Regions from separate parts of the Homo sapiens genome. Here region 2 is linked to region 1. Evidence: fine-mapped expression QTL. A gene starts in region 1. The other region holds a variant in brackets. All regions are shown on one strand. Distances are from middle to middle.

The links. PIP is the estimated chance that this variant, and not a neighbour inherited with it, causes the effect.
Region 2: its variant is the best candidate, but not a certain one, in a credible set for the expression of SCAI in esophagus mucosa (GTEx, PIP 0.58).

The regions. Positions count from the first base shown.
Region 1 is chr9:125,141,406-125,145,785 of GRCh38, reverse strand. SCAI (suppressor of cancer cell invasion) reads left to right here and starts at 2,258. Exons shown (of 18, transcript NM_001144877.3): 1 at 2,258-2,401; 2 at 3,109-3,153. The coding sequence starts at 2,349. RefSeq lists a silencer at 2,140-2,639.
Region 2 is chr9:124,855,104-124,859,483 of GRCh38, reverse strand. It overlaps WDR38 (WD repeat domain 38), which reads right to left. Exons shown (of 9, transcript NM_001045476.3): 3 at 3,734-3,850; 4 at 3,526-3,623; 5 at 3,164-3,244; 6 at 2,884-3,015; 7 at 2,603-2,752; 8 at 2,073-2,120; 9 at 1,606-1,982. The coding sequence ends at 1,854. It overlaps RPL35 (ribosomal protein L35), which reads left to right. Exons shown (of 4, transcript NM_007209.4): 4 at 1,417-1,601. The coding sequence ends at 1,566. Among named protein-coding and RNA genes, the nearest start is that of WDR38, 3.8 kb to the right of the region's middle. RefSeq lists an enhancer at 1-16 and silencers at 657-939, 3,551-3,719. The variant T/C (reference allele first, on the strand shown) is at 1,622.

The sequences.
Region 1 (4,380 bases):
AGCACTGGGATTACAAGCATAAGCTACTGTGCCCAGCCCAAACTTCAAAAAAATTAATAAATCTTGTTCATCCTTCTCTAGAACTTTTCTCCCCCTAGATGAGGAAATAGGCTTAGAGAGGATAGGTGACTTGTCTAACGTTGCACAAGAGAGCTGGAACTTGAATCCCTAGAGGGCACACCAGAGTATTTCTTTAGCGCTCTATTTTAAGCAATATTGGTTATTGTAGTTGTGTGACCCTGAACAGATTGAATTTTCTGAATCTTAAGTTTCTGTGTCTAAAATAAGAGAATATCAGGCAGGGTTAATCTCACTATTAAAAATAGCACACACAAAGCACCCAGTATCTGGTCCAAAGCTGCCTTTTATTAAGGGCTCATACTCATAGGCCATTTGTTCAAATTCATTGTAGTTGGGAAGAATAATCCAAGGCAATGTATAATTGCTAACATAGTGTAGATTTTGTAAGTACAACACATCTGGACAAGGAAATGTTTGATGTAGGATGGAGTAATTGGGGAAGATAAAGAGGAAGTGTGAATTAAGTGTGGACTGGAATGATGGGATTTGTATGTCTTACAGAGTTAAAATAAGCAGAGATCACTTGGACACAATGTGAAGACTCGAGGATCCTTTTTGGGAAGGCGTAAGAAATGAATAGGTCCTGTTTTATTGACAATATCTGCCATATATCAGTGAGGATTGGTCAATTATGGAAGATGCTAAAAAGCAGGCAATGGATTTTTAATAAGGAATATAATAAATGTATTTCAAGATTACTTCCCTAGTGAGTTGATGATCCCCCTTCGTCTGACACAAATTATTCTCGAGTTCTTTCCTCTCTCTGGCTTGATAATATGGGTGGAAACTGTTAGTTGAGATTGAGGTGATTTGTGGTTCTGTGACTTTAGGATTACGTGAAATACTAATTTGGGGGACCAACAGAGATTTGACATTTTTTCAAAGCAATTTTTCAATTCCTACTACAATTTACCGTCAGTATTACTTCATAAATGGAAAGTCATTTTACCATTAAAGATGTAGGTAGGACCATCTCAGAAGAAAAGACAACTCTTTACACCAAATACATTTGGTTTTGTGAAAAACTAGTATCCTAATTTTTGCCGCTTATGGAGATCAATGAGAGATTTTCCCCACCCCAATGTTGACATGTACTACTCGACGCTGTCATATTATTGAGGCATAAAAGATGTTCTAATAAAATGGAAGTGACTTAAGAGAAAGTTTTATGCCTCCTCCCAACTCTGAACAGATGCTGAGAATATACCAAACAAGTTCACACAGGAGTAGAGATTTAGAGAGGCCTTCCCACCTTCAAGAATTTTATAATACGTTAATGAGCTGAGTCTTATTTTCAAGGATGGCTTTGTTAAAGCAGAAGAAGGGTAACTATGCTTATGAAAGGCAGTTTTGCATGCCTGTTTGTCAAAAAATACAGTACAATTTATTTTAAAATTGATTAATTGGTGTAGAACTTGCAATGGTCACACAATCAGGATGGTCAGCTTCCATTCAGGGATCAAATTTGTCCAGGCCTTTCAAAATGGAACACGTTGCTTTTAGTATGGCATTGGTTCTGTTTGTAGTGCTGATTTTTCTTTCATGGTAATTAAAAAAAAATCTTACTTTCTTAAAAGCCTGCACCCAAGCTAGTGAGCTTTTCTGCAGAGGATTGAGCATCCAAACCATGCTTTATTTTGGTGGATTCTTAGAGTTTTCTGGCTGGGTCCTTTTTGAGGGGTAGCTGTGAGCTGTGAGACAATTTCAGCAAGATGTAGGGACAAGGATCGCATTCGAGGTGGCTTAAAAGGAAACACGTTTGTGAGAGTTGCCTCACTGTCTCACCTGCTAGAAGAAATTGGGAGATTTCAGGGCTTGTTTTCGGTCCTGGCGTGGTGCAGAGGTGGAGGGGCGCCAGCAGGTGTGTGGTATGCAGGACGCAGAGCCAGGAGAACCTGGGGCAGGTGTCTGGAGCCGGGGGTGCAGTTCCTACTTTTAGACGCATGGTGGCGCTAGGGTCTCCTCCGGCCCTGCTAGCAATCTCTAAGGCACCTCCGCCGCCACCTGCAGTCTCAACCAAACCTCTGGGTGGGCAGCGCGGGATGTGACGGGCCGAGCGTCCAATCGACTGACAGATTTCCGTCCACACTACTGCTCTAGCCAATGGGAGCCGAGGAGAGGCGCGGAGGAGGCGGGCCCCGCGGCAAGCCTGGCAGAGGCGCGAGGCCCTCCTCCCGCCTCTCCGCCTACTCCAGCCTCCGCCGCCTCAGCTTCCCGAGCGAGCCCTGCGGCCGCCGGAGCAGCTCCCGCGGCGGAGCAGGAGCCGGATGGTCAGAGGAGCCCGGCAGCCCCAGCAGCCGCGGAGTCGCCTGGCCCCCAGGTGCGGGGGCTGGGTGGAGGCCGGGGTTGGGGATGGGGTGGGGGCCAGGGAGCGGGCCCAGGGGCAGCGGCTCGGGGCGGTGGAGCATTCGGGGCGCAGAGACCGGAGGGGCGGGGGGTGCAGGCTGGGGGGACCTTGGGGGCGCCTGCAGGCGGCGGCGCGGGCTGGGCGCGATCGCCTCCTCGAGGCCAGGTGAGAGGGGCGTGTGAGGGAAGGGGCGCCGAGGGGTGAGGCTGGCGGCGCGGGGCCGGGAGGGGCAAGGCGGGCGCGCCCCCGGAGGGGCCGTGGAATGCGGGGGTCGCCGGGCCCGGAGAGGCGGGGCGTGGAGGGGGCAGTGCACGGTCGGGAACGGGTGGGCACAGGAAAGGGGAGGCTAGGGGGGCTTGCGGGGGTGACGAGGCAGACAATGAGTAGGTGGAGGTGGGTGATTTTGGGGAGCTGGGCTGTGACGAGCAGGGGTCGAGGATGGGGTGAGGGACCAGGAAGGTTTGAGCTCAGGGGGAATTGGGGGAACGGTGAGTCCCAGGAATGCTAGGTCTTGGTAAATAGGGGAAACAGGGCATGAGGCGTTTGTAAGGTCAGATCTGGGCTTGGCGAGCCTGTGGTCCCAGAGGGTGGTCTATTTAGTTCTTGACTGGCACGGTAGCGCCGGGAGATGTTTTCTTGTATGTTACTTTTAGTTACCGTCTTATTTGTTTGGTCTGCAGACTGACTGGCACAGTGGAGAAACCGCCTCGAAAACGGAGAAGCAGGTAAGGCAGTGCCTTCCTATTTTGCTTCATGTTTTTCTTTTTGCTTGGCTGCACCTGTGCCGTACTGCATAATTGTATACTGTCAGTAGATGAAGTTTCTTATTTATCCCCCTTTTAAAAGAATATAACCACATGCATGATTTTTCTTTTGAGGACTTCAAATTACTACCTCTACAGTCGATTTTTTTTTTCTTGGTATCTAAGATAATGTGGGAAATCTTGAGAAATCCTACTTTTTTACTTTTTGATGTTGTGTAAGGATCTCAGCTATTTTTTTTTTTAACCTTAGCCATAATTTCATTTTCTCCAGCATCTCTGTTTAAAAAGCTCATCTTGGCTGGGGTGGCTCATGCCTTCAATCCCAGCTCTTTGGGAGGCTGAGGCAGGAGGATCATTTGAGCCTGGGAGTTCAAGACCAGTCTGGGCAACAGAGCAAGACTCCGTCTCTACAAAAAATTGAAAAACTAGCCGGTCCCATAAATATATACACCTACTATGTACCCACAAAAACAAAAAATTAAAAAAACAAAAACCAACTAGCTGAGCGGGTGTTGTGGACCTGTAGTCCCAGCTTCTCAAGAGGCTGAGGTGGGAGGATTGCTTGAGCCCAGGAAGTCAAGGCTGCAGTGATGCAGTGAGCCGTGATCATGCCACTGCACTCCAGTGTGGGGAACACAGCAAGACCCTGCCTCAAAAAATAAACTAATTTTATTGAGCATCTACTATGTGCCAAGTACTGTGTACGAATGCTCTATGTGTATCTTCTCCTGTAATCCTCAAAGAACCCTAAGAGAATATGTAGTGTCACTATTTTACAGAAGAGGGAACTGCGACACAGAGAGGCCAAATATTTACCCAAAATCATGCATCTAGTAAAAGATAAAACCAGGATTTGAATCCAGACAGTCTGACTCCAGAGCTTAAGCTCTTAACTGTTATACCATAATGCTGCTAATAAATATGCAATTGAAAGTAGGTTTTCTTATTGCTTTATCTTTTGTCGTTGGACACTGTGTAGTTAACTCGAATGGTTGAACCTTAGGAAAATAGAAGCAAAGAGTTTAAGTAGTCCACAAACAAAGTGAATTAGTCCTTGAGTAATGGAGATGAAGATATATTTATCACATAAACATTTTTGACTGCATTCCATGTGAGAGGTACTACATAGCAATTCTGTGTAGTCATTAGATGATTCCTTTTTCACAGATGTTGGCATTGACCTAGAGA
Region 2 (4,380 bases), 290 kb after region 1:
CTCAGCCCTGTGCTTAAGACTTACAGCTGATTGGATCGGGCCTTCTGGGATTACCCAGGATAATCTCCCCTAAAGTTACCTGATGAGGGTCTTTAATTTCATCTGCAAAATGGTTCCACATCACTACCCAAATTGTGTTTGAATAACTTGAAGATTTGACACAAGGGAAAAGCAGCCATGGCTGATGAAGTGCCACAGGCCTATAACCCCAGCTACTGGGAGGCCGAGGCAGGAGGATGGCTTGAGCCCAGGAGTTAAAGTGTAGCCTGGGCAACATAGTGAGGCCTCATCTCAAAAAAATGAGAAGGGCCATAGTGTGGCTATGTTAGCTGTTCAGGGGACACTAGCACGTGTGTGGCAAAAGTAAACCTTTAATGTCAGCAGCTACGTGTGTGGCTAGTGGCTGCTCTGTTGGACAGCAGAACTCTAGGGGGTTAGCCAATGTGAAAAGGACGAATGCCCAGCCGATGCCAGCAGGAGTGAGGGATGTGGGAGGACAAAGACTTTCCTGCTTCCAAGTACCCTCCAGGGCTGGCCCTCATTGTCCAGGATCTTTCTGCAGTCCTCTGCCCACCTGCAGGGGCCTGGGGCCCTGTGACCTCAGAATCCCCCATACCATGGGCCACTTGTTACCTGTTCAGTCTTCCCCCACTAGGCTGGGACCCCTGAGCAGGGACTGGGTCAGATCCTTTGCCAAGCCAGCTCCCAGCACAGGGCCCAGTCCTGAAGGGGGCCCAGGGGACCTTTGCAGAACACAGGAGAGACCAGTGAGAGCTGCCATGGTCTAGAACCCCCTGCTGGAGAACAAGTGGGGCAGGAGTGGGAGCCAAGGATGGAAAGACAGATGATGGCTCTGTGACAGCTGTGGGCAGGGGCCCCAAAGCCGGAAGCAGGTGGGGCAAGTGGCCTTGGCCAGCCAGGCCTCTGAGGCTGGACGTTCATACAGGCAGCAGCTGGTGGGCCCTGCATACAGATGGACAGAGTACTGCCTCAGCCCCCAGCATGCTCTTGCTAACCAGAGCCGAGGTAATGGTAACTACCCCCGGGGCTTGGTGGGTGCTGCGTGCCCTGTACTAGGTTGTCATGTGACTGTCCTCGTGACTGGGAATCGGGCAGTGGAAGGAGCACTGAGTTGGGAGTCACTTGACTGAGATGCAAGCCCCGGCTCTTCCACAGCTTTGCCAAGACTTGGACACTCAGCCCAGTAGGTCAGCAGACTTACATGAAATGAGGATGGTCCCACCAGCCTTAGATTTGGGGGGATTAATTGAGTTAGTGACATGTGTGGCCTGCTGGCAGTCCCATGGTGGCAGCCTCCTCCTGAGTGGCTCTGGATGGCCCTCCCCAGCCCCCTTAGCTGCTGCAGTAGCTCCTCAGCCCTGGGTCCTTGGATTCACCCTGCCGTCTGTCTCCCAGGGCAAGAAGTACAAGCCCCTGGACCTGCGGCCTAAGAAGACACGTGCCATGCGCCGCCGGCTCAACAAGCACGAGGAGAACCTGAAGACCAAGAAGCAGCAGCGGAAGGAGCGGCTGTACCCGCTGCGGAAGTACGCGGTCAAGGCCTGAGGGGCGCATTGTCAATAAAGCACAGCTGGCTGAGACTGCTTTGTTTCCTGGCACT[T/C]CCACTGATTGGGTGGAGGTGGGTGGGTCTGGTTTTGGGGACCAGGTGTCTGATGGGTTCCAGCAAGCGTCCTGCCCACCACAGTTGTCTGCTCTGGTGGGGCCTGGAGAGTCCTGGCCATGGGGATCTGCTGGATGCCAGCACAGTCACTTTGCGTCTGTGGGGAGAAGCGGCATGCCTGTGCGCCACTGAGGGGAGCGGGTGAGGTCGGCACCATCTAAGGTGGTTGGTGTTAGGTTTGAGGGTCCCTGGGTGATTTGGACGTGCGGGATATTTGACGTCTAGTCTGATCGGCAGCTCCAGACACTAAGATTTTCCCATCTGGGGTGAAGGCACAGGTGTGGGCCACATCCAGGACTCCCTGCTAAGAGTAGAAGGTGGGGCTCGAGGCAAGTCCTGCCTTGGGAGAAGCTGTCCACAGCTTCCTCAGTGCCACAGCGCCGTGCCTTACCTTCAGGGTCTCAAGGCACTTTCCTGTGTTGCAGTCCCAGACTTTGACCTGGAAAAGGAGGGGGGCATGTCAGGAAGCCTCACCAGGCCACTGTGGCATCTGAAGCCACCTCCAGGAAAGTCCCAGACAAAATATGAGATGAGTCTTCGCCTGAACTCCTGACCTCAGGTGATTCACCTACCTCCACCTCCCAAAGTGCTGGGATTACAGGTGTGAGCCACCGCCCCCGGCCCAAAAAACATCTGAACCTCTTGGTGTAGGTTTTGTTTGGAGGCTGTATTTGAAATTTCAGAGCAGGAGTTCCCTTTTGCCTGATGCCATTTGGGTCATGGAAATGTCAATGCAACTACCAATGGGCCAGCCCTAACCTTGGTGCTGGCCATTAGGAAGAGAGGCTGGCACCCAGGTCCTGCCCTTGCCCCCTCCTAGCTAGGGCAAGTGGGGATGTGGGCATTTCTGGAGTGAGTGCTGAGGGCTCCTGGTGGGGTGAGGATGGGTAGGTAGGAGCAGGATGGGCCCGGGGTGGTTACCATGCGGGAATAGCCGGCGCTGGCCAGCCACAGCTCGTCGGGAGAGAAGGCTATGCTCTTCACCCAGGTGACATGGCCCTTCAGTTGGATAAGCAGGCTGCTGGTTGTGGGCTTCCAGATGTGGATGGTCTTGTCCCAGGAGCCGGATGCCTGGACAGCAGACAGCTCTGATCCCCAGGGTTTGGGGCCTGTGAGCTCACTGGGCCCCTAAGTGGCCTGGGACCCTTAAGGGCCTGGCTGCCAGCAAGGGACCAGCCTGGAACCCAGGACACCCCACTTACCAGGAGGCCGGATGCTGAATAGCACAGGCAGCTGATGTTGGCACTGTGTCCCTCTAGCGCCTGGTGGGAGACTGCTGGGGTCACCATCCGCAGGTCCCAGATGTGTACGGTGGAGTCCCAGGAGCCGGTGGCCTGCAGGCAGCTTCTGTGAGTCTGGCCCAGCCAGCTCTCCACCCACTCTGCATCTAGGCGGGACCCAGAGTCCATCCCCTTCCCACCACTCAGCTCCAAGTGGGTATGGGGCCACTGAGGTGGGGCCCAGGGCAGAGGGTAGGCTCACCAGGCAGTTCACCGTGGGTGAGAAGTCGCTGCTCTGGATGGAGTCACGGTGCCCAACTAAGAGGCGCAGCATCTGGCCGGACTAGAGAGAGCCCTGAGCTGCAGAAGGCAGCAGAGGGCAGCCGGCTACCTGGCCTTGACAGTCCAGGAAAGGGGGACCTCGTGCAAAAAGCCTGAGGGCTGCTGTGTGCAAGGAAGCCTGGAGAGGCGGCTGTGGCCAGGTGGGGGCAGCCTTGGTTGCCTGCTGTGGGCATGGGCCATGGGAACCAGTGGAGGGTTTGAGCTGGGAGGGCAAGACTGGTGACATCCTCTCTGGAACTGGTCCTTGAATCCCAGACTGGTGGCCCCAGCCCCTCAACGTACCTGCACATCCCAGAGCATCACCCGCTTGTCCCAGCCACCTGATGCCAGCTGTCTCGAGTCAGGGCTGAAGCTGACCGTCTCCACACTCCGTTGGTGACCTGCAGGCACCAGCCCGGGGTCGGGGAAGGTGGAAAGGTGACGTGACACAGGACACAGCACCATCTGAAAGGGAACGCTGGCCTGGCTGCTTGGCTCCCAGCTCACTCACCCTTCAGGACCCGCAGACACTTCGCTCTTGCCACATCCCACAGGCGGACAGTGCAGTCACAGGAGGCGCTGGCGAAGAGGTGGCCATCAGGGGAGAAGCGGCAGAACTTCACGGGGCCTGGGCGGGTGGCCACAGTCAGGGGACAGAGCACTGCCCGCCACTTCTGCCCACGCAGTCCAATCCTTGCTAATTTCTCCAGCCTCGTCGCCAGCCTCCCCTCACCCAAACTCCAGCTTCCCAGAAATGCCTGGATTTCCATGCCTTGGCCTGGGCTGGGCTGTCAGCCTTGGAGCACCCAACCTCAGTGCTCATCTGAAAAATCAATCCCCAAGTCAAAGTAGGGACCTCCCAGAAACTTGCCCTAACAACCGCTGCCTAGGTTCACTGCCTCCTTTGAGCTCCAGCCCCTGATTTTCCCTCCTTGCAGCATTAACCAGACTGCCTGTAATTGCCTGATATTTTTTCTTGTCTCCTGAATAATAATTACAATAGTTATATCTATTGAGTCCTTACTGTGTGCTAGGTACTTTGCTTGCATCGTGCCAGTGGAAATGGCTCAGCGAGGTGACAGGACTTGACCAAGATCACAGTCAAAACAGTGGTAAGCACGACATGGCTGAACCTTAAGTACATCATGCTAAGTGAAA